Linked DNA regions of Homo sapiens. The protein of the gene in region 4 purifies or fractionates together with the protein of the main gene of each other region. This does not show direct contact. Each region holds a gene or a part of one and is shown on either strand. Other genes may lie near its edges.

Region 1 (8,385 bases), on a different chromosome or scaffold from region 4:
CCTCAGCCTCCCGAGTAGCTGGGATTACAGGTGCCCGCCACCACGCCCAGCTAATTTTTGTACTTTTTTAGTAGAGACGGGGTTTTGCCATGTTGGCCAGGCTGGTCTGGAACTCCTGACCTCAGGTGATCCACCCGCCTCGGCCTCCCAAAGTGCTGGGATTACAGGCATGAGCCACTGCGCCTGGCCATATTTAGTTTTTAGGCTGGCAACTAATACTTGGACCTCGAATACTATGGTTTACTCATGTTCTTAATTATATTACTAAATAGCCAAATATGTTTATTTTGTTTTTTGATCTTTTTCTTTTCCAAGTATGTTTAAATATTCAAGTCTTGATTCAGAATAACTGATAGGTTACAGAGCATGCAAACCCATTCACAAGCAATCCAACCTTGGCACTGCATAGCTAAGTTTTTGTATAAGGATTTAGACTACCTTCCTAGGAAGCAAAAACTTAATACTCAATTTCCAATTATGTGGATTCCTTTTTCTAAATTCTTGGTTTTGTGCAGTGGCACGATCATAGCTCACCGCAGCCTAAAACTCCTGGGCTCAAGCAATCCTCCTGCCTCAATTTCCTGAGTAGCTAGGACAACAGGCACATGCCACCAGGCCTGGCTAATTTTTTCATTTTTGTAGAGATGGGGTCTTGCTATGTTGCTCAGGCTTGTCTTGAACTCCTGGGCTCAAGCAATCCACTCGCTTCGGTCTCCCAAAATGCTGGGATTACAAGCATGAGCCAATGCACCCAGCTGTTTCTGTTACTTTTAAATAGGTTTCCTGCATTTCTTTTTTTTTTTTTTTTTTTTTTTGAGAAGGAGTCTTGCTCTTTTGCCCAGGCTGGAGTGCAGTGGCGCAATCTCGGCTCACTGCAAGCTCCGCCTCCCAGGTTCATGCCATTCTCCTGCCTCAGCCTCCATAGTAGCTGGGACTACAGGCGCCCACCACCACGCCCAGCTAATTTTTTGTATTTTTAGTAGAGACGGGGTTTCACCGAGTTAGCCAGGATGGTCTCAATCTCCTGACCTTGTGATCCGCCCACCTCTGCCTCCCAAAGTGCTGAGATTACAGGCGTCAGCCCCTGCGCCCGGCCAGGTTTCCTGCATTTCTAATGAAGAAATAGGCTGGTCCTCAATTTTGCAGAAGTTGTATCATCATAGGTCATACCTAACATTCGTTTGTCAAGAGCAAAAAAACCCCCTTGGGTTCTCTGGATCTCACACAGCCCACAAACCTTCAGAATGTGGTTCCTTCCCGCAGGCTTTGTCACACTTAAGATCCAAGAACAAATCAGCCTGGCTTTAACATGGGGTAGATGGCAAGAAGGATAATGGCTAATAGAAGGTTTTAGTCCTTGTATTAGTCCCCATGTTACAGATGACAAAGCTGAGTAACAGAGAGAGTATCCTAACCAAGTTCATCAAGCTAGACACCATGAGACAGTATTCTGTGATGCTGATAGAACATTGGTGACCAGGCTGTGAATGGGTTAGTCCTAACACAGCTGTGCTTAGAAAGTAAAATAAGAGAAGAATGCTTAGGATAGCGAGGCTGATGGATCCAACTAACAACTTACACAAAGGTCTCTGTTGGCTCAAAAAGTTCTAGTTGTGTCTCTCTGGCATTCTGCCCAGTTTCTGCCCTTGAAAAGTAACACTTAAGGAACACTTTAAATAGTGATGAACTTTTCCCTGACTCTTAAAACCATGGACCCACATTTTCATACACCCAATAAAATGTTATTTGTCCCTCTTCTGAACTTCCAGTTCTGAATACATATGGCATTTCATTCATTCATTCAACATTCACGAAGGAGGTATGTACCAGGCAATGGGGACACAAAAGTGAATAAGATATGGTCCCATCCTAGCCTCGAGGAGCACACAGACAAATAAAAAGCCAATTCCTCATACAAGGCTGTAAGAGCTAAGCTAAATGGAAGACAGGATGCTGCAGAAGGCTGCCTCACTCAGACTGAAGGAAGGAGTGTTTTCTGGAAGAAAGGATTCCCCCAGCTGAGTAAGGAAGGATACACAGGAGGCAGTCAGATGAAGAATCAAGGGAGCAAGGGAAGAAATAGTGGCTTTTCAGGCTGCAGCACATGCCACTCCCTGGCCGCGAGAAAGAGTGACGAATCTGTAGATCTGGAAGTAGATCAAGGTGGCTGAGGTTCAAGGACGTGAGAAATGGTAATGGTAAGAGACTGGACTGGGAAGAGTGCTGGTGACCAGAAAATATAGGATCACATACATCGAGTGTTTCTGCAGAATGAGTGTATAACAGAGAATGGATTTTGTTATTTTCCTCATAACACTGTCACAAGAATAGGCAAATTTTTTCGGTGAAGGGCCACACAGCAAGTATTCTGCACTCTGTGGGTCACACGCTATCACTCTCCTTTTTCTTATATCCCTTTAAAAATGCAGAACCCATTCTTAGCTCCAGGCCACAGTTTAGCAACCTCTGTTCTGCTGTGACTTCTTATTTAGTGTCTGCCTTTACTGTGAAGACTGAGCTCTCTGAAGGCAAATACTGTTACCACTGTATCCTCAGTGTCTAGCACAGGGCCTGACACTTAAGGGGCACTCAAATAATTACCTTTTTGAACCCAGGAGAGAAATGACAAGGATCTGCATTAAGTGGGCATAAAGAAGGGGGAAGATTCAAGAGATAGTTAGAAGGTAAAACTTAAAGAGCATGGTAACTGATTAGCAGGAGGTAAGAAGGAACGAGTCAAAAAGAACTTACTACACGTTTTATCTAATCACAATTACTTGTATGTTTCTTATCCTATTAGAATATAAGTGCCTTAAAAGAGAGAATCACATCCTTAACACTGTGTCTAGCACTGTACTGTGCACATAGTGGGTATTCAACTTAATAACTTTTTGAATAAAATTCCCATTATCTTAACCTTTTTTTCATAAACATTAAAGTTTTTCAACAACTAAGAAATTTTCTTGAGGAAAGCAGTATATAGTTGGCCCTCAGTATCCATGGATTCAACCAACAGCCGATGTAAAATATTTGGAAAAAAGACAAAAATAATGATAAAATAATAAAAACAAAAACCAATACAACAACAATTTACATAGCATTATAACTAGAGATGATTAAAAGTATACGAGAGGATGTGCATTTTTTATATGTAGTACTGTGCTATTTTATTTCAGGGACTTGAGGATCTTCAGATTTTGGTATCCTGGGGGAGGTGAGAGTGAGTACTGGAACCAATCCACTGCAGATACTGAGGGATGGCTATACTATCTTTTGGTACTGATATAGAAAACATAATGATTAAAAAACATAATGATTAAAAAATTCCTGGACCTTCCCAACATGCAATGGTTTATAGATTTATGTAAAACCAAATCTGAAACTAGCCCTGTAACTCAGAAAGCTTGGCTTACAATTGTTTAAATTCCAAAAAAAGATTTCATAAATGATACTGAATTATCCACATCCCATTCCTAATCCTTTAGAAAACCGAAAACTAAGCCCGAGTGTTTCCAGCTGAAACAATAAAAATAAAGCAAAGAGGTCCCATTTTTACCACATCTTTATAGCCTAAGAGTTAGGATGCAAGTTTCAGCAATGAGTTTCAACTTCAAAAGAAAAAAACGAAAAACTTTTAAGCATCCAAACAAGCAGACACAGCAAGAGGAAAAAAAATTCTCTGAAGGCGACAATCTACAATTACTCACAGAGCTGCAGCACCAGAGATAATTTCAATCAACTCTTTTGTGATGACAGCTTGGCGGGTACGGTTGAATGTCAATGTCAATTTGTCAATCATCTCAGCTACAAACAAAACAAAAACACTACATAAAAAATCTGAAACTAGAGTAGAATAACTTGTTAACTAACTTCTGTTGCTTAATTTAAAAGTAAGAAATTTTTGGATACCAAAATTGGCCTCTCAAATAATGTTATGAAGATATTTTTACATCTTCCATAGGATACCTTTTCACAGTACTTGCAAATCAACTACCTATCAAGATATACTTTCTTACAGGTACAGGAATATCATGTTAATGTTGTTGATGCTACTCTCGGCCACGGACTCCTCTCAGCTGAGATTCACTGTGTGCTCACAAGCACTCCTGCTGGCACTGTCCATACTGTGTACTTACAAGCATTCTTGCTGGCATTGTCCATGGCTGTCATCCTGGCACTCTGCTCACTAGTGGTGGACTCCTTCAGAGAGTAGTAGATGATGTTGGCCAGATTGTATTCTTGGTAATTTTGCAGCACGTCAGCATCAATATCGTCATAGATACTCATGCTGTCTGTTAAAACAAGTGATGAGTTTCTTTCAAGTTATATGGAAGGAATAGTAATTCATCAAAAACAGCTTTTCAGTGTAAAACTCCTTTATAATTACAGAGCAGAAATTAATGCTAGATAAGGTAAATGAATCTGTTCTAATAATGTCATCTATTTCCACACTACAGATGATAGCATATTTTTAGCAAAATATAATGTGTAAATAAACCATTTGATATTCTACTCCACATGTGTAACTTTAGAAAAATTAGGTCAACATTTGAAATAACTGCACTATATCTCGTGGTTATGAAGCCCTCTGGACAGCATTAGCATGTGCCTGTTACAAAGCCAGCAAGCACTCAATGCTTTTTCCAGTAAAAAAGAATAATAATGAATTGAAACGAATTTAGTGTAATACAGGTTGAGCATCCCTAATCCCAAAGTCCAAAATCTGAAGTGCTCCAAAATCTGAAACATTTTGAGCACTGACGTGATGCCACAAGTGGAAAATTCCACACCTGACCTTGTGTGATGGGGTGCATTTGAAACTTTGTTTCATGCAGAAAATTCTTTAAAATATTGCATAAAATTGCCTTCAGGCTATGTGTATAGGGTGTACAGACTCAGGTCCTGTCCCCAAGATACTGCATTATAAATATGAAAATATTCTGAAATCCCAAACATTTCTGGTCCTAAGCATTCACACAAGGGATACTCAACCTGTGCAGTAATTCCAACTTAGTCATTTGATTACTGAAGAAATCTGAATGTATCAATCTGGAAAATGAGAGAGGGAAAACCTTTCAAAGCACATGAAAGAGTGGGAGAACTAGAAATTGGTATGAATCGTAGTTTTAATGTTGTAGAAATTTAGAAGTACATTTCAAAATTCATTCATTGGGGTCAAGTGGTGACACAGTACTATATATTATCAAAATACTATATTTCATTAAATGGTACTGGTTGTAACACCTACTTTATTTCTCATTAAGAGAGAAAAAAATGTACTCAATTATAAATGATGTTCCATTGGCTGGTAGAGCCATCTCAATTTCAGAAACATTAACGTGTAAAGTACATACTTGAAAATAAATGAAGTATTAGAAAATAGATGGTATATACAAGGGAAAAAAGCCTTAGAAAACTAAAATCAGTTCCAGAATATTATTCCAGGATGCTTCAATGATCAATGATGACTTTATTCCAACAATAAAACAAGAGAATTGAGTCAGTCAATGTAAATTAGCTGTGAACACTGTTCAACTCTCTATTCTAGAGCTTCTGTTTTATTGTAGTTAGAGGTCCCAAACATAACTTGCAAAGCCAGTTTCTAGCTACGCTCTTCAATCCTTGAGGACAAAAAAATCTAATGATGAACCTCAATAGATACTGACTTTTCAATTAATGACAGAATAGAGCAGGAGTTATCAAACAATGACTGAATTAAGTATCATGGAAGTCAAGAGATGGCACTTCTCAGAAACAGCCCCAGATCGGCCGGGTGCAGTGGCTCATGCCTGTAATCCCAGCACTTTGGAAGGCCAAGGCAGGTGGATCACTTGAGGGCAGGAGTTCAAGACCAGCCTGGCGAACACGGTGAAATGCTGTCTCTACTAAAAATACAAAAATTAGCCAGGCGTGGTGGCGTGCACCTGTAATCCCAGCTACTTGGGAGGCTGAGGCAGGAGAACGGCGTGAACCCGGGAGGCGAAGGTTGCAGTGAGCCGAGATCATGCCATTGCACTTCAGCCTGGGTGACACAGTGAGACTCCGTCTCAAAAAATAAAAAATAAAAAAATAAAAGGCTGGGCTCATGCCTGTAATCCCAGCACTTTGGGAGGCCGAGGCGGGTGGATCACGAGGTCAGGAGATTGAGACCATCCTGGCTAACATGGTGAAACCCCGTCTCTACTAAAAATACAAAAAATTAGCCAGGCTTGGTGGCGGGTGCCTGTAGTCCCAGGTACTAGGGAGGCTGAGGCAGGAGAATGGTGTGAACCCAGGAGGCGGAACTTGCAGTGAGCCGAGATGGTGCCACTGCACTCCAGCCTGGGAGGCAGCAAGATTCCATCTAAAAAAGAAACAGCCCCAAATCATTTGCTATAGCTACCACCAGATATCTTGACACTGTCTGCCTTAGTGTACAAATCTCTCCATTCTATATGCCAAAAAATATGTATCATAGAAAAACTACTTACCAGCACTTGCAACGGTATTAAGGGAAAAGATGGGCTTTTCTTCTGTCTTATAGGAGATGACAGACCTAGAATTGACAAAAACAAATGTAAATCTCAAAATAATTTTTAAACTGTTATTTCAAAATATGAACAAAAGCATGAACATAAAAAAGCTTTGATTTCTAAATCTGTCTTGCCTGAATTTATTAAAGATGATGGAGCCTTCATCAAATTCATATCCAGAATTTAGTAATTCAAGGGCAATGACTGACGCATCTCCAAAAGTGGGGGGCTTTCTTCCCACTTCTTTGAATGCCACCAGAAACTGGTCAGAATGAGTCCTATAAGAAAAGCAAGAGCTCACATAGCTAGTTTAATAAGATTTCTGCTGAAAGAGCACAGGGGACAGGCAGGAGAAAACATTGTCACCATGGATCAGGTCTTTTGGGGTATGGGTGGTGGTGATTTCCTGAGTTGTTCCACACACTATCATCATTCCTTTCCTTCAGCACCTGCAAAGAACTAAGAACTAAAAATGAGGTCTGTTTTATATTCTTTTCCCCTTTATTCCTCTCCTTCTAATCCTAATGAACTATTGCTAACATTTCCAGGCTGTAACAGCTCCTCAGATGCCTCATTTGGCTTAATGCTGATAGCTTTTGATATTCACATGGCATTCAACTTATGATCCGGATGAAGAAGCAAAGGTAGAAAACAGGGGAAGGAAAACAGAAATGTTCCAATATATCCTGGAAAAAAGAAAAAGGAAACAAACACCCCCTTGTGAATATACCAAAAAAGGCCCTGAAGAATATACCTTGTTATTGATGAAGGTTTTGAGAGTTTGTCAAAACTTTTGAGAGAAGATTTATTCGTGCTTACATCTTTATGAAAATAAACAATATATATTTAAATTACCTATAAAGTATGCCTCTGATTTTGTCACCAATTCCAACAAGCATAACTTCTTTCCCAGCTGCTGTTAGTGTAGCAACCTCGCTTTTCATCTGTTTAGCAATGGAGGAATGAATAGCACCACACAGTCCTCGATCTGAGGACACACCAATAAGGAGGTGTTTCTTCTTGTCTTCAGGCCCCTTGATATCAGCTTTTTCATACAGAGCTTAAAAACAAACAAAAGCAGTAATTTTTTTATATGCAATACACTAAATACAATAAATCTCTAATTTACAAAGCAGTTGGTTATTTCCAAAATACGCATTTAAATTTAGCTGGCAACTGCCTAGTGTAAGCAGGTGTTCTTAGGACAGCTGTAAGCTGAGGCCGGGCACAGTGGCTCACGCCTGTAATCCCAGCACTTTGGGAGGCCGAGGTGGGCGGATCACCTGAGGTCAGGAGTTTGAGACCGGCCTGGCCAACGTAGTGAAATCCCGTCTCTATTAAAAATATAAAAATTGGCTGGGCACGGTGGCTCACGTCTGTAATCCCAGCACTTTGGGAGGCCAAGGCGGGCGGATCACAAGGTCACGATATCAAGACCACGGTGAAACCCCGTCTCTACTAAAAAATACAAAAAAATTAGCCAGGCGTGGTGGCGGGCGCCTGTAGCCCCAGCTACTTGGGAGGCTGAGGCAGGAGAATGGCGTGAACCCGGGAGGCAGAGCTTGCAGCAAGCTGAGATTATGCCACTGCACTCCATCCCGGGAGACAGAGCTAGACTCCGACTCAGAAAAAAAAAATACAAAAATTAGCCAGGTGTGATGGTGGGGGCCTGTTAATCCCAGCTACTGGGGAGGCTGAGGCAGGAGAATCGCTTGAGCCTGGGAGGGGGAGGTTGTAGTGAGCTGAGATTGCACCATTGCACTCTAGCCTGGGCAACAGAATGAGACTCCATCTCAAAAAAAAACACAAAAAGAAAACAAACAAAAAACAACAACAAAACACACACACACACATAAAAAAACAAAGGACAGCT
Region 2 (5,943 bases), on a different chromosome or scaffold from region 4:
AAAAAAAGATTTTCAAAAGGAGTTCTACTTTTAGGAAGATGATTTACCAGTGAGCCCTGAGGATTTTATAGTCTGCTCATTTCTTCTCTAAACTGGTACTTCATTCCTTGGTTATCATTTTTCTATACTAGTAATCAAAAATCATGTTTCTGAAGCCCAGGAGGAGTCCCAGAAGTGTCCACCCAGCTCTGGCCTCCTCCCACCGTCTCTCCTCCCCATGCTTCCCCAAATGCACTCGTCCCTCAACTGTCTTTTCACCCGCTCACATCCACACTTTCTCAGCAGCTGCACACAACTCCCGGGGTGAAGCAACCCTGTCACACCACAAGCACAACAGATGTGCCACTCCCCAGCACAACCATGTTCACTGCTTCCTTCCTCAGCCTGCCCTGTGAGAGCAAGAGAAGAGCAGGGGTCAGTGAAGTGAAAGGGACAGACGGCAGCCCTGATACTTTAGACACAAATCTCGCCTGTGAAAGTGCTTCTTAAAACAAATCACATCAAGGTAAGAAAACCATCACCAGCAAGTCACATGAGCAGTTATGTTCCAAATGTGATGGGTTTATTTTATTTTACTATGATGCAAAACCAAAGATTCCACTATAGCACAGAGACCAGTATATTACAAGGTCATGAAAAAATGGTGTGGGACATGCAGGACGTGATGTACAAACTGGTGGGTCAGATCGTCTCCTCTAACATGACGCTACACTGTCGCTGAGGAACACATTTAATAACACTTCAGAACTGAACTGAAACGTGGCACAAACATGACAACTTCCAGGCATGCCTTCAAGCATCTCCCTCAGGAGGGATTCGCAACCCCTAGACTTCAGTGTGGGGAGGATTACAATTCTTTGGAAGAATAAAAAGTTCACACTTTTGAAATTTCACAGAAGAATTTTAAGGCCAAAACATAGTGGGTTCATTTCTCTTCACTTCCAGGGACAAATCTGATGCTTTCCTCAAACCACATTAAGCTTCCAGTTCAAATCCCAAGCCAACCTTGTGACCTCCTGCACTGAAGTTCTTCCCATCGATTAAAGCTGATAAAGTCAATTTGACTCCTAGGAAGAAGAAAACACCACAATCACTTGAAACAAGTATTACAATTAGATCTGAACTTTCTAGAAACAACAGATGGAATCAATGGTGTGGATTGTAGCTGGGTATACGAGCTATAAGCAAACAGCTATTACTCAATCGGTTATTTATAACTATCTGATGTGTAATGAGGAAAGCATGATCATGGCAAACTTTCTCTGAAGTTCAGGGTTAAGGGCAATGAGTGATCAACCAAACTCAAAGGCCAAAGTGACCACATTATAGTCAGAAATACATACTTTTTTAATGCAAAAGTATTTGATCTGTATTGTTTTCTGTCTGAACAACCAAATGTTACAAAATGGTCCAAATCAACTTACAGTGACTACAGGTTGTTCTGCAGGTTATTTTCATTGTTTTCTCTATCACCTTCCACCTCAACCCCTCTGTTACTAATTCCTTTACTTACCTGGTCGAAGGGTCTGAGTATAACCCAGTCCAATCAGGCTGGCATTATTTACTTTAGCCTAAGATTAAGAGATAGAATAATAACAGAAAACAGTGAATTACAGATCAGTCCAATATAACCATCACTTTGTGCATTAGGTTTCCAATGCTAAAAGCACCCTAGGGCCAATCTAGAATTACTGATTTTTTTTTTTTTTTTTTTTGAGATGAAGTTTTGTTCTTGTCACCCAGGCTGCAGTGCGATGGCACGATCTCGGCTCACTGCAACCTCCGCTTCCCGGGTCCAAGCCATTCTCCTGCCTCAGCCTCCCAAGTAGCTGGGATTACAGGCATGCGCCCCCATGCCCGGCTAATTTTGTATTTTTAGTAGAGACGGGGTTTCACCATGTTGGCCAGGCTGGTCTCAAACTCCTGACCTCAGGTGATCCCCTGCCTCAGCCTCCCAAAGTGCTGGGATTACAGGCGTGACCCACCGTGCCCAGCCGGAATTACTGATTAAGAAGTCAGTAGGACTTGTAGGGGTAGGACGTACCCTGAGAATGCATGCTTCAAGGCCTCAAGCAAAATTTTTAAACACTACACAACCAAACACCCTGAATTCTCTGAGATACCAGCTGACAATCTCTCACAGTGGTTACGGCATGAACTTGGGTGACAGAAAAACAGACCTAGGTTCAATTGTGGCACTGCCAGTTACTATGTGACCTTAGGCAAGTTAGCTGACCTTTCTAAGGCTCAGTTTTCTCATCTGTAAAACAGGGATGAGGATAACACTAATCGCCACATGGAGTGGTTGTGAGCGTTAAATGACATAATATACATAAAGCCCTTAGCACAGTACATGAAATTTAACAGCTCAGTGTTATTTTTAGTAAGAGTTACTATAGCAACAGAAATAGTCATCTAATCCCATGAATTTCCAAATAAGAAAATTCTGAGGCCAAAGTGATAAAATGACAAGGTCAGACAACAGATATACAGGAAGAGCTAGGACTAGAAGAACCCCTATTTCCTGACGTCAAGCATAATTTTTTTTTTTTTTTTTTTTGAGATAGGCTCTCGCTCTGTCACCCAGGCTGGAGTGCAATGGTGTGATCTTGGCTCACTGCAACCTCTCCATCTGCAGGGTTCAAGCAATTCTCCTGCCTCAGCCTCCCTAGTAGCTGGGACTACAGGCGTCACCTACCACGCCCACCTAATTTTTGTATTTTTAGTAAAGACAGGGTTTCACCTTGTTGGCTAGGCTGGTCTTGAACTCCTGACCTCAGGTGATTCATGCACCTTGGCCTCCCAAAGTGCTGGGAATACAGGCGTGAGCCTGGCCACATTATATTCCTTTCACTACACAATGAGCTGGCTTATTAAAATTAATAAAGAACAAGCAAACTACACTCATATCACAACATTCTCTGAAAACTTAGACACAAACATAAGAGCAGATCCAATCTGGCAGCACATTCTTACAGAGAGAGAAGTTCTACAATCCAGCATGTACTTAGCAGCAATGCCAAAACGGGTGTTGTTACTCCCAGCTGTCCAAGCAAGGTTTATGGATGTTTCAATCTTCTCATTCACCTTCTGGTAGATAGAACCTCCAAATTCAGTGCCATCGTTCCTGTTTTCATAGATAAGAAAACGTCATAAATATCTAGTTTGTACCATTGTTATTATGGTATGAAAACAAATTCTAAGACTATCTAAACAAGGATCCCATTTTGTAACTATAGATTTCAGCAAATTTCTAGCATAAATGACTACTAAACAAAACACAGAACTAAATCCAGCTATGCCAGTAATGACTGCTTAATTAAAACGTTAACACTTGATCCATTTACTTGGCTCCTCCACATGATGTGAGTTTCTTAAGACAATTCAATTAAGCACAAAGGCAGACACCTCGGGTAAGTATAATCTATAGGTCTCTGAGAAGTTCATAGAACTTAGAAACTTCAAAGTAGAGTTCAATAAAGATTCTGCAAAAAAATAAAAAGGTAGAGGTATAGGAATAAAACCAATTCTGGATTTCCTTTAAAACACAATCCTACAGTTAGAAAGCACCCTCCTACGATACCTAGGGTGCACTGCTCCAGAAAACCACCTTAGTTATTGCTTCCAAGCATGCCAGAGGTGAGTCCTTGGGTTTTCACATGGTTTTCCTGATAATACTGTTTCATCAATTTCAGTAACTGTCTATACCACTGCTTGCCTTTGTTTTAGCCATCATAAGTAAATTAGAGCATCTAGCAGAGAGGAATCTGCAACAGTTTAAAAACACATAGTTTGCCCTTTGCTTTTTCTTCCTGGTATAGTAGCAGTGTCCAGTAGGCTCAACATAAAATACTACGTAAAAGTTCTGATTCATCCCACCAACATGGTGCAGCCTACATAACTGAATCCCAGGACTCTTTCAGAGCACCTGTTACTTCTGAATGCATTAGCGGTACCTGGGTTCCAACCGAGAATACCAGTACCTGAAACCTCCACAGAATTACCGGGATGTCCCAGGATGCTCAGATCAATTTGGTGGTGGTTGTTGGTGACCAAAACAGACCTGCTTCCAGATACTGTCAAGATGAGAGGGCAGCAGAGGAAGCAGTAACATCTCCAAAGGGTCATCTTACCATGAGGTAAGCCATGCTCTGGGCTCCCTCTATCCCAGTGGTTCTTCTACAGAGGCTGGAGCTTCCTCAAGTTTGGGGTGCAGGCTGAGGGGCCAGTGACCACCAGCAGCACAGCCTGCACACCACGTGCACCAGCCTCCTGGCAAGGTTTTGCTATGAGGATAGCACCGCAAGGATGGATATTCACCAAGGCATGCTAAATCTGAGTACCATCACTTCTCAGCATGCTAATGGCTACAATATTTTGGGCAACTGCACTGATACTAAGGAATAAATTATAAACACTCACACATGTGTGTGCAGCTGGAAGTCCGCAGCCTTGTAACCCAGGGCGAAATTATTCTGTGACAGTTTGGATTTGGCTGTGTCAAAACTCATCTGATAGCCAGCAAGCCACCCTTCGAAGGCCAACACAGCCCAGCCATAGATGGTTGGTCCAGAAAAATCTATATCAACATTACTGCCAACACTAAAACAATCCCGTTTATAGGAGGCCTTCAATTTCCCACTCTTCTTTCTGCAATAAACAAACAAACAAAAGCAAATGATGAAAACAACATGAGTTCTTACTACTGTCTAGGAATTTTTAGAGTAAGATCCTCTCTCTCATCTCCCAATGTAAATATTATTTTGGTACATGCCACATATATAGTAAAAACATTTCAAATGACCTAGTTCTACAAATATAATTTTGTTAGGATTAGACATGTATAGACTACTATCATCTATTACTCATTATAAGTTCAAATGATAGGATACTTCATGATTTATTTCATAAAAGCATGAACAAAAGTATAAGAATGAATAAGAGGCTGGGTGTGGTGGCTCACACCTGTAATCCCAGCACTTTGGGAGGCCAAGGTGGGCGGATGACGAGGCCAGGAGATTGAGACCATCCTGGCCAACATGGTGAAACCCCGTTTCTACTAAAAATACAAAAATTAGCTGGGCGTGGTGGCACACGCCTGTAGTCCCAGCTACTTGGGAGGCTGAGGCAGGAGAATCACTTGAACCTGGGAGGCAGAGGTTGCAGTGAGCCAAGATCATGCCACTGTACTCCAGCCTGGCGACAGAGCGAGACTCGTCTCAAAAGAAAAAAAAAGAATGAATAAGATATTTCAGTGCCAAATTAATAATCTGAAGGTGTATGTATACAGACGTACAAGAAGCCAAATCTCTTTAAATGTTTCCAAATGCCAAATGCCACAAAGAATTAATCCCCAATATACATTATTAACCTATCATGGAGAGAAGCATGCTTTTTTGAAGGACAATACTGAAAAAATGAAATTAGTTCTTAATAACCCTATTCCAATCAAGCCTCTTGTAGGAATATTTGTCCTGGCCGGGCACAGTGGCTCATGCCTGTAAGCCCAGCATTTTGGGAGGCCGAGCCAGGCGGAACACGAGGTCAAGACAGAGACCATCCTGCCCAACGTGGTAAAACTCCGTCTCTACTAAAAATACAAAAATTAGCTGGGCGTGGTGGTGCATGCCTGTAGTCCCAGCTATTTGGGAGGCTGAGGCAGGAGAATTGCTTGAACCCAGGAGGCAGAGTTTGCAGTGAGCTGAGATAGTGCCACTATACTCCAGCAAGACTCCATCTCAAAAAAAAAAAAAAAAAAAAAAAAGAAAAGAATATTTGTCCTAAAGATAACTGAAGTGTGTGGCAAAAAGAACACACCTGTTGTTACGGCTGAGACAAATGTCACTTTGCATTCATCTAGCAACCTCCGTCCTTCAGATAGCATGGACCCACATTAGGCAGATAGGAAATGACACAATCCCCCTTTTTTTCACGAGGAAATTG
Region 3 (8,385 bases), on a different chromosome or scaffold from region 4:
CACCGCACCCGGCCAAAAGATATCCTTAATATTTATCAATTTTCTAGTACTTTGAAATGTACTCCAATTTTTAAGAATTCGTCTTTCAAATAAAAAAGAAAAGGAAGCCAATGTATAATCCTTATTTATACACTAGGTAGCAAAGCTGAGTTACAGTTTAGTTGTATTTATTCCTATTTTCCTCCTAATCAAGCAATATTTTCTTTATCAATAATTAATTTCACATGGACAAGATCTGGGGAAACCATTTGAGATTTTATTCAATAAAAGAAATAATAGGCAGGGCATGGAGGCTCACGCCTGCAATCCCAGCACTTTGGCAGGCCGACGCAGGTGGATCACCTGAGGTCAGGAGTTTGAGACCAGCCTGGCCAACATGGGGAAACCCCGTCTCTACTAAAAATACAAAAATTAGCCGGGCATGGTGGTACGTGCCTGTAGTCCCAGCTGCTTGGGAAGCTGAGGCAGGAGAATCGCTTGAACCCAGGAGGCAGGAGTTGCAGTGAGCAGAGACTGTGCCACTGCACTCCAGCCTGGGTAACAGAGTAAGACACCATCTCAAAAGAAAAAAAAAAAAAAAAAAAGAACAAAAGGGAACAAGGATAGGAAGCTGTTTTTTGAATTCAGGTATAGTGTGGCAAGCTGTAAAAAAAGCAAGAATTTCACAACTCACCATTAGCTGATTTTAAATCAGGGAGGATGTGATTCACAAAGAACTCAGTTAGGTTTACAAGTTCATTTGCTTGTGTAATTCCATGCTGAAAAGCAAATTCATAACATAGTAAAATAACAAAATACCTGTATATATCTATCACATTAGAAATTCAGGCAATTTTAGAAAACCATGTTAAAATGGAGATGAACACTTCAAAATACAAATTGCTTATGTATAAAATGAGACTGTACTGGCTGTGTACAGGAGCTCACGGCTGTAATCCCAGCACTTTGGGAGGCCGAGGCGGGTAGATCACTTGAAGTCAGGAGTTCAAGACTAGCCTGGCCAACATGGCAAAACCCCGTCTCTACTAAAAACACAAAAAATTAGCCAGGTGTAGTTGCATGCACCTGTAATTCTAGCTACTCGGGAGGCTGAGGCATGAGAATTGCTTGAACCCGGGAGGCAGAGGTTGCAGTAATCTGAGATGTTGCCATTGCATTCCAGCCTGGATGACAGAGCAAGACAACGTCTCAAAAAAAAAAAAAAAAAAAAAAAAAAAGAGAGAGAGGGACACTTCAAAACATGAACTGCTTAGGCTAGGCATGGTGGCTCATGCTTGTAATCCCAGCACTTTGGGAGGCCAAGGCAGGTGGATCACCTGAGGTCAGGAGTTCAAGAACAGCCTGACCAACATGGAGAAACCCCATCTCTACTACAAATACAAAATTAGCCAGGGTGGTGGCGCATGCCTGTAATCCCAGCTACTCGGGAGGCTGAGGCAGGAGAATCACTTGAACCCGGCAAACGGAGGTTGCGGTGAGCCAAGATCGTGCCATTGCACTCCAGCCTGGGCAACAAGAGCGAAACTCCGTCTCAAAACAAAACAAAACAAAACAACAACAACAAAACACAACCTGCTTATGTATAAAATATAAAATAAGACTATACTGTCTAGGCACGGTGACTCACACCTGTATCCCAGCACTCTGGGAGGCTGAGGTGTGAGGATCACACGAGGTCAGGAATTTGAGACCATCCTGACCAATATGGTGAAACCTTGTCTCTACTAAAAATACAAAAATTAGCCAGGTGTGGTAGTGCACACTTGTAATCCCAGTTACTTGGGACGCTGAGGCAGGAGAGTCGCTCGAACTCGGGAGGTGGAGGTTGCAGTGAGCTGAGATCACGCCATTGCACTCCAGCCTGGTGACAAAGTGAGACTCCATCTCAAAAATATAAAAATGTAAAATAAGACTATACTAATAGACAATAAAGAAACTTTCCTCAATTAAAGAACAGCTAAGTTTAAGTTAAGCATATTTGATACAGCGGGTCTCAGCTAAGGTAACAAGTGTGGCCATCTATCAATTTTCTGGTCTATAAGAAACTTAAGTGCTCAATACATCAACATAAAGCCATCTTCAGAGATTATATAAATCTTAATCAGAATAGGTTATCTGGCAGAGTAAGCTCTATTATCAGAGACGTTATTTCTTTTTGACTTGTGTGGGTGTCACTGATGTCTGTTTTAGAAACAAAACCACATTAAAAATATTTACCTTCTGTGTTTGGGCTTTTGATGCCAAAGATGTCACTAGGTAGATGGCTGCATCTTTGTGTTTCCAGTTGACAGATGGATTTTTTGCGTATTCCTGCAGCATGGAATTAACATAACCAGAGAAGATTCCTGTCACAGGTCCCTCAAAAAACTTGCATAATCCTCGTACCAGATCACAAGCAGCCCTGCGTCTAGTATCAATATCTATGAAATGAAAAGAAAATATATTATGGGGAAAAAAAACAACCACCAACAAGCTGATCCAATTTATAAGAAAACAAATTGCCTGGAATAATTTGGCTACGATTGTAAAACGGAAAAAAAAGAACGAAAAACAAAGGGCCACCCAATAGCTATCAGCAACACAAACAATGAAAAAAACATTCCCGCCCCCAAGAAATACAAAATCAAAATGAAACTAAAGAGGTCACAGAATCACAGAATTTTGATAAATACTATGTAAGAACAGACAAATGATTCAACTTTTGATATTTTCATTCAGGTCATATAAGAGCTTTTTAAGACAAGTTGAAGAAAGACAACAGTTCTCAATGAAAGCCCGCTGAAAAAACACTCTTATTCTCAATCCCACTTCTCCCATTTACTAGAAAGAGAACCACCTTAAAACTGGCTTGCTAAGAGACTAGTAACTAAAAAACCAAGATACACACCAGATCCTTCCAAATCTCTCCTTATGTACTCCTCAGAATTATCTTCAAATGCTTCTTCATCAGCAGCTACAAGGAGAGATGATATTTCAGATAACACTCCAAAAGACGTCACTGTACTTTACAGCTGAGAATGCAGAAGAGTATGTAAAACTGCCTTGTTCTACAGCAAAGAATTCGTTCCCATCAGATGACTACTTCATATACTCTTAATCATTATCTAGAGCAGCAAATGCTACCCTGAAAGGTGAGGTATTAGGTAATTCACACAACTATGAGATAGGCTCACTTGTTCTAATGTGACAGTTTCCCCAGAATTGGATTATACCTGCAACTGTCAAAAATGTTAGGGATCAGTATCAGAATGCTAACTTTTAATTTCACCAAATAAGAACATTAAAATACCAACAACCTAATTTTAATCACTATTATTTCATTAAAGTCATTTCAACAACAAATAAGTAGAGTGGACAATGTCAGAAATGGCCGGCATGGTGGCTCACGCGTGTAACCTAGCACTTTGGGAGGCTGAAATGGGAGGATCGCTTGAGCCCAGGAGTTTGAGACCAGCCTGGTCAACACAGCGAGATCTCATCTCTATTTTTATCATATAAATTAAAAAAAAAAAAAAGTCTACACACACACACACACACACACACACACACACACACACACACTGCAGTTGTATGATCATGTCTCACTGCAGCCTCCACCTCCTGAGCTCAAGCAAAACTCCCACCTAAGCTGCTTGAGTACCTGGGACCACAGGCCCATGCCACCATACCCAACTAATTTATTTATTGTAGAGATAAGGTTTTGCCATTTTGGCCAGGCTGGTCTTTAACTCCTGGGCTCAAGTGTTCCTCCCACCTCAGCCTCCCAAAGTGTTGGGATTAAAGGTATGGGCCACCACACCCAGCCAGAAGATTTATCCTTTAAACATATTTTTATGAAAACACAACAGGAAATAAAATCTCACGCTATATTGTCCTTAATTTCCTTATTTTGTTCCAGATGTAATTTGAAAACCACTGATCTAATAACTATTTTGATATAAAACAAAATCTTGGCCTGGCATGGTGGCTCATGCCTGTAATCCCAGCACTTTGAGAGGCTGAGGCAGAAGGATTGTTTGAAGCTAGGAGTTTGAGACCAGCCTGTGCAACATAGGAAGACCCCCATCTTTATAAAAAATAAAAAACTAGCTGAGCATGGTGGTGCACGTCTGTAGTCCCAGCTACTCAGGAGGCCAGGGTGGGACAATGACTTGAGCCTGGGAAGTTGAGGTTGCAGTAAGCCATAACTGTGCTACTGCACTCCAGCCTGGGTGACACAGTGAGACCCTGTCCCCAAAACAAAAAACACAATCCCTCCCACCTTCATTACTTGTTCTTCACAACTGTTAGAACAAGGACATACATTTTATAAATATAGGCTCTTAGCACTATAGTTTAACCTTAAGCACAAACTAAGTGGGCTTCAACCTTGTATTTATAAAGTTATCATTTCTATTCTCAAGTCGATTGTTTAAAAACAGCTATTTCTGGGCGAGGTGGCTCAGAAATGCAATCCCAGCACTTTGGGAGGCTAAAGCGGGTGGACTGCTTGAGCTCAAGAGTTTGAGACTACCCTGAACAACATGGTGAAACCCTGTCTCTACCAAAAATACAAGAAATTAGCCAGGCATGGTGATGTGTGCCTGTGGTCCCAGCTACTCAGAAGACTGAGGTAGGAGGATCACTTGAGCCTGGGAGGCTAAGGTTGCAGTGAGCCAAGATTGCATCACTGCACTCCAGCCTGGGTGACAGAGCGAGACCCCTGTCTCAAATAAATATATAAATAAATAAAGCCAGCTAAAAATTCATTGAAATAATAAATGAAACAAAATCAAATTCTTTCTCTAAATAGAAATTCCAGATAGTTTATCTTCTTAGTGTAAAGGAATTTTTGAAGTCTTATTTAATATTTCCATGAGAAAACCCTCACAGGGCACAACAAAACTCATTACAGATACTACATTTTCTGTCTTGGTTTAGAAAATAAGAAATAAATGACATACAAGTTTTATCCAGTAATAAATGAATTAGACTGAATATGTTACAAAAAACAAACACAGACTTAGTAGATTTATACTAATATACTTTTGCCATAATTACCTCTAAATTCCATGTTAGGCACAATAACCTTTTCACAGATACTTGTCAGCGTGTTCTGGTCCTCAAATAGATTCTTATAATGAGGTCTCTCACAAACTGAAGCCAGAAATTGAATTGCATTACTTACCAACTGGAACAAAACACAAAAACAAGAATATTTTTAAAAGCAAAACTCAACAGCTTATTTCTTGGAGGAGATAGGGAGAGAATGTCTTTTAATTATTTGTCTCCACCATCATCTTACCAAATCATATTTAACCTCTTGACCCGTTGTAACTAGTAAATTCCAGATGGCTGTAACAAAACGAGGCAGGTATCGCTGGAATTCTTCATCGTACTTTTGTGCATAGAGTGCGGCATTATCACAAATCTGGGATTTTAAGAGCTCCAATAAGCCGGCTTCCTCTTCATCCTCACATAAAAGAAAACAAAAACTCCAACATACAACTCTAATGCTAACATAAGTAAGAGGAGTAACTGAAATTCCTGAACTAGACTCTTTATCAATTAAATCCAAATCAAATCAGTTATTGTAAACTACAGCTATGCCACCACCAATCTTTTCACCAAGTCTTTCAAATAAGTTGCTGAATTACAAAATATTTCCGTATTAGATTCAAACAGTATATTCTGGCTGAGTGTAGTGGCTCACGCCGGTAATCCCAACCCTCTGGGAGGCTGAGGCTGGAGGATGGCCTGAGGCCAGGAGTGGTTTTTTTTTTTTTTTTTTGAGACGCAGTCTCCCTCTGTTGCCCAGGCTGGAGTGCAGTGGCGCGATCTCAGCTCACTGCAAGCTCCGCCTCCTGGGTTCACGTCATTCTCCTGCCTCAGCCTCCCAAGTAGCTGGGACTACAGGCACCCGCCATCACGCCCGGCTAATTTTTGTATTTTTTTTTTTTAGTAGAGACGGGGTTTCACCGTGTTAGCCAGGATGGCCTCGGCCTCCCAAAGTGCTGGGATTATAGGCGTGGGCCACTGCGACGGGCCAAGCCCAGGAGTTTTGAGTCTAGCCTGGGCAACACAGCAAGCCCCCAAAATAAAAAAAATCAGCTGGGCATGGTGGTGCATACCCATAGTCCCTGCTACTTGGGAGGCTGAGGTGGGAGGATCACTTGAGCCCAGGGAGGTCGAAGCTGCAGTAAGTCATGATCATGCCACTGCACTCCAGCCTTGGTGACAGAGTGAGACAAGGGAAGACATCAGAGTAAGAACAAAAACCAAAGCCAAAACCAAAACTCCCTCACACTGATTACTTAAGGCATAAATAGTAGCACAAGGTAGCACATGGTTAACTGGGCAAAAAGGTCCTTGTAAGAATTCTATCCAAAAAATTTCCTTGTGACTTTTGTGTGAAGAAAAGTTTTGTTTTCTGAAGGAGTGTTTTTCCCTCCCATTGGACTGAAATAATTATTTTATGAGAGCTACATCTTTTAAAGTTCCTATTAATATAGTCAAACTCTGAGACAAAATCTGTTGTACAACGATAGTAACAATTTCTTTCTGTACCCCACTCTTAAAACCTGATTTGAATCACCAATTCTAATTTTTAGTTTATTTGGTATTGAAATATTTTTAATATTTTGTCTTTTGTCTCTTCGGAAAGAAGGTCATAAATATATTAACAAATGAGTAGCACAGAATAAGTGTTATATGTTTAAAAGTACACAATATAAAACCCATATCAGAAATATTTACAAATTACAATCTTTTACCATTTTCTCTCTTTCTCGAGCTGTGGATAATTTTTTCTTTTTCTGAGACGAGGTCTCCCTCTGTCTCCCAGGCTGGAGTGCAGTGGCATGGTCACAGCTCATTGCAGCCTTGCCCTCCTGGGCTCAAGGTCAAGGGATCCTCACAACTAAGCCTTCTGAGTAGCTGTGACCATTAGCATGAGCCAACACATCTGGCTAATTTTATTTTTATTTTTTGTAGTGATGGGGGTCTCCTTACATTGCCAAGGCTGGTCTTGAACTCCTGGGCTCAAGGGATCCTCCCCACCTTGGCCGCCCAAAGTGCTGGGATTACAGGTGTGAACCACCATGCCTAGCCAGATGATTTTTAAAAAGGGGCTACCATTATAGAGTTTTAAGTTTTCTTAGTATCTTCAATGAAAAATAATTTTATTTCATGAAATATCCATAATGTCACTACTTTAAAGACCTACTTTCAATAATGTAATGAAACAGCCTTATATGTACACTATGGCTTAAGCCAAGCCCATGATAAGAGTAATTCTGTATACTACACACACCAAACATGTAACATCAAATAGAATCAAATATTATTACAGTATTGAAATTTTATCTTTTAACAATGCAAGAGTAAATAGGTTTCCAGACTGTAGCCAAATAACTCTTAATGAAAGAAAAAGACCACTCAGGCAACATTTTAAATACTTACATCAGTTTGTAAAAGCTTATTATCCAATGTTAAGAGAGTATGAAAATTATTCATCCAAGTTTCCATATTATCTTCAAAAAATTCAGGGAGATCCTACAGAATAAACACTGACTTGAAACTTTTGATTAAAATATTAAGAACACCACTTTTATAAGTTCCCTTACCACGTGGACAAAACATTTTATACACAGGCTTCACAGCCTGAGCATTACCTATTCTGACAAGAATTCTCTGCTCCAGCTACATCTGGCAGCTGCATAAAGCATTCTGACTTCTGCCTCTGTTTGTATGCTATAAATGATGCCACCTCTAGTTCTCATCCTAATCTAAATCTTCCTTCAAGGTTCAGCTAAGACTATATGAAGACTTTCCTTACAAAGCTCAAGCTCAGTGCATACTAATACATCCCCTTTCTTTTCTGAACTACGTTTATTGTAAGATGACCACCAAGGCAGATAAACTAATTGTCTTTTAGTTACTGATTTCTTGTGGCATAGTACTGCCTTCTTAATGAGGGTACAAGTCCCCTGAGGGTAGATTATGCCTCTTTCCTTGGTCTCCCTGCCAGACAAGTTCTCAAGAGCTTCATTAAACCTGACTTCTCAGAATTCAAAAGGTGTAAGCAAAAATAGTAGTACTCATTTAAGTAAGAACTTCTCAAACTGCTATCCAGCTGAACACTGATGTGGGACATGTCCTTTTGGGCTGTTCATCTCCTATTCTAGCTAAAACAACCCAATTTCCTTTTGGGGAATGCTTTCCCTACCACTATGAGTTTATTCATGTTGTGAAGGTAAGTCCAGGTACTGGCTACAAACAATGAATGGGCTAGGCCCTCCTTGCATCGCAGTATAGCAACAGTTTGTACCAATTAACACCCCTTTCTTGGTCCTGAATCTTGAATTAATGATTAAGAACAGAAAGAATGATTGGAGGCCACTATCT
Region 4 (8,385 bases):
AGCCCAGCAGGTTGAGGCTACAGTGAGCTATGATTGCACCACTGCACTCCAGTCTGGGCAACACAGCAAGACCCTGTCTCAAAAAAAAAAAAAAAAAAAAGAAAAGAAAAAAAGAGAATTCAAATAATCCATTATATAATAATAATACTAATTATTTTTATTTTTTTGAGATGGAGTCTCGCTCTGTCACCCAGGCTGGAGTGCAATGGCACGATCTCAGCTCACTGCAACCTCCGCCTCCTAGGTTCAGGCGATTCTCCTGCCTCAGCCTTTCAACTAGCTGGGATTACAGGCGTGCGCCACCACGCCTGGCTAATTTTTGTATTTTTAGTAGAGACAGGGTTTCACCATGTTGGTCAGGCTGGTCTCGATCTCCTGACCTTGTGCTCTGCCCATCTCGCCCTCCCAAAGTGTTGGGATTACAGGCGTGAGCCTACATGCCCGGTCCCATTATATAATTACTATGTGAATATTGATACACCATTAAAATCAAAGTCTATTCTATGCCTAAACAACTAGGGCTTTAAATAAATGTAGCATCAGTTAATATGGTAGAAAACTGTTACATTTCTTTAAAAAGAAATACTATGTTCTGCTTTTTCATCCCTAAATCCAAGTTAAAAATAAACAAACAAAAACTTTCAAAAATTATAGGAGTTACTCAAAACTTATGTATTAAATATCAATTCTTTAATTACTTAGGGCACTAAAACTGGGCAGCTATCATATAGAAATAGAGGCACTCTGCAGGATAAAGTTCAAATGATACTTACAGAGGTATCATAATTCCCAGGTGGAGCAATGTAAGTTACAGTTCCTCTGTTTCGTGGGGGTAACATGATTTTGTGTTTGATAAGCGAGTTCTCACTGACAATTCCATAAATGTCTCCGCCAGTGATATGACTACCAACCTAGAGATAAATGTATTTGCTGTTTAATTTGCAAATAAATGTCAAGTAGACTTGCCCCTGCTGCTATAATTTAAATCAATTACCTGACTTATCAATAAAACATTAGTTCTAAAATCCCATGAAGTAGAGTTAAGAAAAACTTTAAACTATCCTTCTGTAGTCTATTTTTATTTGGACTAAGAGTACAATGTAGTTTACTAAACATTCATTTTATATTCTTTCAATAACTTCAGAAATTCTTGGTTACACAGACATACCCGTAGGTTTTTGCAAGGTGTAAAGTCCCATTTGATATCTCTGCTAAGAGCAGACACGTTTACTCCTCTGGGGATGTAGATGCTTTGGGTCTGACTGCTGATATCCGACAAAGGTCTTTGAATACCATCAAAAATGGCTCCCATAATGCCAGGACCAAGCTCTACAGAGAGGGGTTTACCAGTGCGAAGTACAGGATCTCCAACAGACACACCAGCTAAAAACAGCAGCTAAGGAAAACCTACTATGAAGGTTTAAAGACACAATTAACAGGAAATACCACAGTTTAACAAGGAAATGCCACTCAAGAAGTGAAAACGGAAGTTCCCAAACTTTCTCAGTTCACAGGATTCATAGTGTTTTCAGTAACTTCTTTCAGTGTCCCAGGACAAAAGATATATCTAACACTTGCATTTATTAAACAGTTATGTCTAAACAACCTAATATGTATATACGTCCTAACAACTGAGTAGCAATTTGAAAAAATATATGCATAAGTTGAAAGAAAAAATAATATTAATTTCAGTCCTAAATATCCATAATTCTCATGAATGTATATGCCCTTGGGGAACTATATAATTTTCCAATCTTGCAATCAGATTGGAAACTTGTTCCATTTTGATTGTCACATGATACCTGCTTTTGTAGCTTAGCAACTGCCAAAAACTCAGCTTTGCAAAGATATGACATCATTGACAAAAATATAGTACAGCAACATAATGAAACTGTTTATTATCTCAAGCTACTAGTTCATGTGGTGTCTGACAATATGTCTAACATTCCTGTGTTTGCCTCAAAAATTTTAAATATCCTGGCACCACATGAGTTTGCTGCAGCTTCTCAGAATGACTCTGCAAAGTTTGGGAACCACAGGGCTAAAAACAGAAGCAAAACTCCCTCATTAATACATTGCTTCACATATGCTGCTGAGGAATATCAGTCCCCTAATAAGGGTATTAGTACTTGGACAAAACCTAAAATCTTAAGAATAAAGTTATTTTGAAAACATACAAATAAGAATAAAATATATAAATAAGCATAATGAGTCCACTTTATTCTACACATTTGTTGACAGGAGTAAAATCAGTACAACTTTTCCTGAGAGCAATTTAGCAATATTTATCAAAATTCAAAATGGGTAAGTCGTGACCTAGGAATCCAACTTCTGTGAATTCTTACTATACTTACAATGTAGCACTGTTTATAACAACCAAAAACTAGAAACCAAAACTTCTATCATTAAGACATTGATAAGTAAATAATGGTACATTTATATGATGGAATTGTTATATGGCTGTAAAAAAAAGAACCAGAGTTATCATGAATTCCTCTAGAAATCTCTCTAAACTATGTATTTTCATTTCCAATTTTGATTATGAAAATTTTCAGAACAACAACAAAGTTGAAAGAATTTTACAGTGGACTCCCAGTCTCTACAAGCTAGGTTCTATATTTAACATTTTACTATATTTATCACATATCTATTTATCTTCTAGAATACACATACTTTTAAGTGAAAAAAAGCAAGGTGTATAACAGTACCTAAAATATGCTATCTTGGGAGGCCGGGGCAGGTGGATCGTGAGGTCAGGAGTTCAAGACCAGCCTGGCCAAGATGGTGAAACCCCATCTCTACTAAAAATACAAAAAATTAGCCGGGCATGCTGGCACGTGCCTGTAATCCCAGCTACTTGGGAGGCTGAGGCAGAGAATTGCTCAAACCTGGGAGGCGGAGGTTGCAGTAAGCCGAGATCATGCTACTGCACTCCAGCCTGGGCGACAGAGTGAGACTCTGTCTCAAAAAGCAAACAAACAAACAAAAAAACCATATATATATGTATATATATATATATGTGTATATATATACGTATATATATACACATGTATATATATATATAGAGAGAGAGAGAGAGAGAAAGGAAAGAAAAATACAAATATTTGTATTTGCTCATGTATGTAATTACTAAACTAGAAGGATATAAAATAAAGGGAGCTATAAATGTGGTTCCATGTGTGCATGGAGGTGTGTATGTGTTTTGATAAACGGCTAGATACAAGACAACAAAGGCAAGGAGGGTTGTCACTGTTTACATTTTCATTTATTTTAAATCTTCAAGCCATGAAAAAGATTAAACAGATTAAAAGATAAAAGTAAAAATAGAAAAAATATTTCTGATTAGTCACAATTTCATAGCTACAAAAACTTCTATTTTTATTTAAAATTTCTAGATGATTTTGTTTTAAATTGGCACCTAGTACTATAAAGAGACTAGTTATCTGCACGCATGTGTTTTAGAATGGCAAAAACGTCGTACCAAATAAATCTTGATTAAATACTCAAAGAATTAATGCTGATTTTGAGAATCAAAGTAAAACACATATAGAAGCACTAAAAAAGTGGTTCTTCTTCACTAGGCTTAACCCTTTATTTTTCATAGAAAATTGAAAATAAATACTATGTTTAAAAGCCAAAATTATGATAACCAAATAGTAAAGCTTTCCTAGTAATAAAACTGAAATGTAATATGTCACTCAGTGCTATCAAAAGAATGGTGACCGTTTTATTTGTGGACTTACTATTTTAAACTGAAATCATAATTAGAGAATTTTAACCTCACAAGTCAATATTGTTATTCTGTTTACGCTTTCTTCTACAATATGCGTCCCAATGAAGAAAAAATTCACTTGGTCCCCCTTAAGTTCATGAATTACTGAAGCAGTAAGAGCAATGAAAGTTCAGAAGATACTAATTTCTTAAAATAAGAGTACCAATTCATAGTACTTTTCTCTCTTTCTTTAACATACTCCTGCATAATTCAGGTCTCTTCACAACACCAGCATTTCATGCTTCTAATATCATTAGTTGTTGCTGCTTTGCTGCTTCCACCTTTGGCTTAAATCCTCAATTTTTTTTTTCTTTTCTGAGATGGAGTCTCACTCTGTTGCCCAGGCTGGAGTGCAGTGGTGCGATCTCTGCTCACTGCAACCTCCCACCTCCAGGGTGCAAGCGATTCCCCTGCCTCAGCCTCCCAAGCGGCTGGGATTACAGGCGCCTGCCACTATACCCAGCTGATTTTTGTATTTTTATTAGAGATGGAGTTTCACCATGTTGGCCAGGCTGGTCTCAAATTCCTGACCTCAGGTGATCCACCTGCCTGCCTCCCAAAGTGCTGGGATTACTTTGTGTGAGGCACTATGCCTGGCCTAAATCCTTAAATTTTGAAATATAGAAAGTGGCAGGAAATTGAGCCAAAAAGGATACAAGTTTCTTCATACACCTGAATAGTAGCCATGTCACCCTCCAATCGAATAATCTCTCCAACCAATTCGCTGTGGCCCACTCTCACCAGCTCATACATGGCTGCACCCGCCATGTCACAGGCTGTAACCACTGAAGAGAACAAAAGACTATTTTGATGACTTAAGACTCTAGTGCTCTGTGAATAGTCACAAATAATTAAAACACCCAATAAACCCAGTATTGTGCCTCTCTCATATATTCATAAGAAGGATAAAAACCTACTATGGAACATACTGGTAGTTTCACATAGATATATATTTTAGTGTATAATATAAAGAGGTAAGCCAAAGATTATTTATTTACATAATATACATGAAAACTTTTCAAACATTTCAAGTTCTGCATGGCAAACTTACCTGGTAGGATTCAGGTATGTTCTGAGAGTTGCTATGATACATGGAGTGAAGGCTTTGGAACAATAAAAAAAACTTTTAAAAGTAGAAATTGGAATAAATGGTTTGGCTAGTAGTATGGTAGAATGCCACACAATTATCACTTCGCTGTGCTGTTACCATTTCCTTTGAGAGACAGACCTAAAGCAACATGTTTACTTTCTAATAACTTATAGCAGTAGTTCTTAAAACTCTTCTGGGACATGGACCCTTTTCAAAAACTAATAATAGCTCTACTAGAAAAACTCACACACACATCTACAAAATTTTTTTCATAGGCCGTAAGGATATTTATAATCAGTCACCACCATTGGGTAAGAAATTGTCAATGGAATTCCATTTACTGAACTTACTATTTTGGACCATGTGGTCTAGTAAGCAAAAATTACTTTTCTAGCAGGGAAGGAAGGTTGCCATATTTTTAGACACGTGTAAGAATAAACCAATTTTTAATATTTAGCCTTCTGATACAACTGATTAGAACTATGTTATAGGTAATACTTCAGTGGAAACTATTAAAGCTTTATGAGTTAATTAACCTGTGTAAAAACAATGAAGACTTATTCATTCTATAAATATTTACCTCTATGCCGACTACTTAAGAATTAAGATGCACTGAAATACCAGAGATAATGAAATTTAAAAATCATATTTCATAAGCCAAAAAAGGATGCCATTGTTCCATTACCTTATTAAGTACTTAAGAATTAAAAATTGCAGGAGGCAAGGGGAGGGAGAGCATTAGGACAAATACCTAACGCACGTGGGGCTTAAAACCTAGGTAACAGGTTGATAGGTGCAGCAAGCCACCATGGCACATGTATACCTATGTAACACACCTACACTTTCTGCACATGTATCCCAGAACTTAAAGTAAAATTTAAAAAAATTTTTAAAATAAAATAAAAATTGTTTCCAGGAGCAGTTTACTACACAGTTTCACAGAATATTTTTTCCTAAACTCTCTGATGTTCTTTTGCCTTTTCTCTAAAGGTTCTTGGGTTTAGTCTGTCCATCCTGAAGACCCTTATGATCATTGAGAGGACAATTATTTCTCTGCATGGCAAAAGATACTGATAACCTTTTAATGACCTGCCAATGAAATCAAGCTCAAACACCAAGTTCTTGGGGGAGAAAAAAGAGGCACAGTGACTGACAGTCTTCATTTGCGTAAACATCAAAAAACTGTCATCACCACTACTCTAACTAGAACAAGAAAAAGACTATATAGCATGAGGTTTTAAGGATAATACATCACTGACCAGGTTTTACTTAGAGAAACTGTGACTGTGAATCACATTGTGTAGTGGGAGTATTCAATAACAAAACAAATACTGGCGTAAGATTTATTATTTAAAAAGCAGCACTCCATGTTTTGGCAGAATGGACATAAAGTTTGGGTCCTAAGACTTCTTTCCCACAGGTAGTTAATAATGTGACACTTAAAATAACCATTCAAAAAGTTTCATAAATGCAAAGGGCAAAAGCTAATATTGCTGAGAAATGCTCTGAGCGTTTGAATTATTAAAGTTCAAAGCAAATTAACATTTACTGAATGCCTGCTATATGCAAGGTATTACATATTAAAAGCTATAAACTTCATAGTTTATTTACCTCAAATTTAACAAAAAATTAAGACATATAAAACTGAACACTGGTTGAACATTTACATAATTATAAACAGGATATCACAAAGTAGTACCTCAATAATTATAAAATTTAGATAATCAATGCTAGATGAGCCCTTATGACAGAGATTCTACTTCGGTCTTATAGTCACTATGAGATCGCCTAAGGACAAACAGAATTTATGCAGGTAAACAGAAAGTTGTATATTTCTATGTAAAATATTTTGAAAAGACATTAATCAAAGTTAGATATCCTTATTTTGAGATTATGATGTATTACTTACCAGGTCCTGAGACCCCATGCACATAACCAAATGTGCTTTCTTTATCTTCATCGAGTATTTTGGGTAGCTTGGAAAAATCCATAATGTTAGTTTACCTATAGTAAATAAATAAATAAATAAGTTATAATTATAAACCGTAAAGCAAAAGACCCAAAATATAGGTAGTCCACTAAGATGAGACCACTCTCATCTTTGGTGTATTCTTGAGTTATTATACTTCTTCAAAGTAGAATAAAAAAATTCCTTTTCTTAATTTAAAAAAAATTTTTAAGAGGCTCTCTGTCACCCAGGCTGGAGTGTGGTGGTACAGTCATAGCTCACTGCAGCCTCAGACTCCTGGACTCTAGCGATCCTCCTGCCTCAGCCTCCCAAGTAGCTATGACTACAGGTGTGTACCACCATGCCCAACTAGTTTTTTGTTTGTTTGTTTGTTTGTTTTTTTGAGACAGAGTCTAACTCCACCACCCAGGCTGGAGTGCAGTGGAAGGATCTCTGCTCACTGCAACCTCTGCCTCCCGAGTTCAAGCAATTCCTGTGCCTCACCCTCCAGGGTAGCTGGAATTACAGGTGCACGTGACCATACCTGGCTAATCTTTGTATTTTTAGTAGAGACAGGGTTTTGCCACGTTGGCCAGGCTGGTCTCAAACTCCTGACCTCAAGTGATCCACCCACCTCAGCCTCCCAAAGTGCTGGGACTACAGACGTGAGCCAGCCACTGAACCCAGCCAAAATTCCTAAAATGTAGTTAAAAGTACCCTATTCCTGGATGCTGGATGGTTTTATCACAACTGAATTATATCTCTATGTGAGGTATTTCATAGGAAATATCGATAACTATAACAAAAAATGTGAAGTCTTTTCAATAACTTATCCACCCCCACAACAAGCCCATCCTCAATGACCTCTCTGACTTATCCAGCTACTCTTTCACTTAATCATGCTGCAGATACACACTGAACTCTTTGTCAGCTCTCAAAAACACAAGCACATTCTACCTCAGGGCCTTTGTACAGGTTGTTCCCTCTGCTTAGAATGTTATTCTCCAAGGTATCTGCTCCTACACCTCCTTCAGGTCTTTTTTTCTAACACAGTCTGTCTCCGTCGATTTGGCAGGAGTGTAATGGTGTGATCATGGCTCACAGCCAACTCAACTTCCTGGGCTCAAGAGATCCTCCCACCTCATCCTCCCTAGTACCTGGGACCACAGGTGTGTCCTACCACACCTGGCTAATTTTATTTTCTGTGAAGACAGGATCTCAGTATTTTGCCTAGGCCGGTCTTAAACTCCTGGACTCAAGTGATTCTCTGGCCTTGGCCTCCTGAAGTGTTGGGATTACAGGTGTGAGCCACCATGTTCAGCACTCCTTCAGATCTTTACTCAAACATCACCTTCTCCATGAGGCTTCTCTGTCCATTTATTTAAAACTGCAACATCCTTCCTCCTTCCCTATTTTATACCATAGCACTTTTCACAATGTAACAAATGATATATTTTACTCTTTAAAAGTATTTATTTATTACCTATCTTTAAATTTTAACTATGAGTGTTTTTCCTTTTTTCTTTTAGTGGAACACACAGAATAGTTTAAGAAATTCATTTCAACCTCTTTGTT

Evidence for each region.
Region 1: the proteins of ATP6V1A (region 4) and ATP5F1C fractionate together in Homo sapiens (co-fractionation; 3 studies listed by BioGRID). This does not show direct contact.
Region 2: the proteins of ATP6V1A (region 4) and VDAC3 fractionate together in Homo sapiens (co-fractionation; 2 studies listed by BioGRID). This does not show direct contact.
Region 3: the proteins of ATP6V1A (region 4) and CSE1L fractionate together in Homo sapiens (co-fractionation; 2 studies listed by BioGRID). This does not show direct contact.

The regions. Positions count from the first base shown.
Region 1 is NC_000010.11:7,798,177-7,806,561, reverse strand, and holds part of ATP5F1C (ATP synthase F(1) complex subunit gamma, mitochondrial isoform L (liver) precursor), read right to left. Parts: intron 7,573-8,385; coding exon 7,368-7,572; intron 7,132-7,367; exon of another isoform or gene 7,061-7,131; intron 6,791-7,060; coding exon 6,647-6,790; intron 6,536-6,646; coding exon 6,471-6,535; intron 4,293-6,470; coding exon 4,137-4,292; intron 3,805-4,136; coding exon 3,708-3,804; intron 1-3,707.
Region 2 is NC_000008.11:42,400,495-42,406,437, reverse strand, and holds the end of VDAC3 (non-selective voltage-gated ion channel VDAC3), read right to left. Parts: intron 4,651-5,943; coding exon 4,423-4,650; intron 3,486-4,422; exon of another isoform or gene 3,348-3,485; intron 3,128-3,347; coding exon 2,977-3,127; intron 1,572-2,976; coding exon 1,514-1,571; coding exon of another isoform or gene 1,510-1,513; intron 1,068-1,509; coding exon 976-1,067; 3' UTR 501-975; downstream 1-500. UniProt on the Homo sapiens protein: Non-selective voltage-gated ion channel that mediates the transport of anions and cations through the mitochondrion outer membrane and plasma membrane.
Region 3 is NC_000020.11:49,069,353-49,077,737, reverse strand, and holds part of CSE1L (exportin-2), read right to left. Parts: intron 7,534-8,385; coding exon 7,441-7,533; intron 5,453-7,440; coding exon 5,285-5,452; intron 5,171-5,284; coding exon 5,041-5,170; intron 2,954-5,040; coding exon 2,888-2,953; intron 2,421-2,887; coding exon 2,218-2,420; intron 759-2,217; coding exon 674-758; intron 1-673. UniProt on the Homo sapiens protein: Export receptor for importin-alpha. Mediates importin-alpha re-export from the nucleus to the cytoplasm after import substrates (cargos) have been released into the nucleoplasm.
Region 4 is NC_000003.12:113,777,222-113,785,606, reverse strand, and holds part of ATP6V1A (V-type proton ATPase catalytic subunit A), read right to left. Parts: intron 6,867-8,385; 5' UTR 6,854-6,866; coding exon 6,772-6,853; intron 4,558-6,771; coding exon 4,429-4,557; intron 1,384-4,428; coding exon 1,169-1,383; intron 912-1,168; coding exon 774-911; intron 1-773. UniProt on the Homo sapiens protein: Catalytic subunit of the V1 complex of vacuolar(H+)-ATPase (V-ATPase), a multisubunit enzyme composed of a peripheral complex (V1) that hydrolyzes ATP and a membrane integral complex (V0) that translocates protons.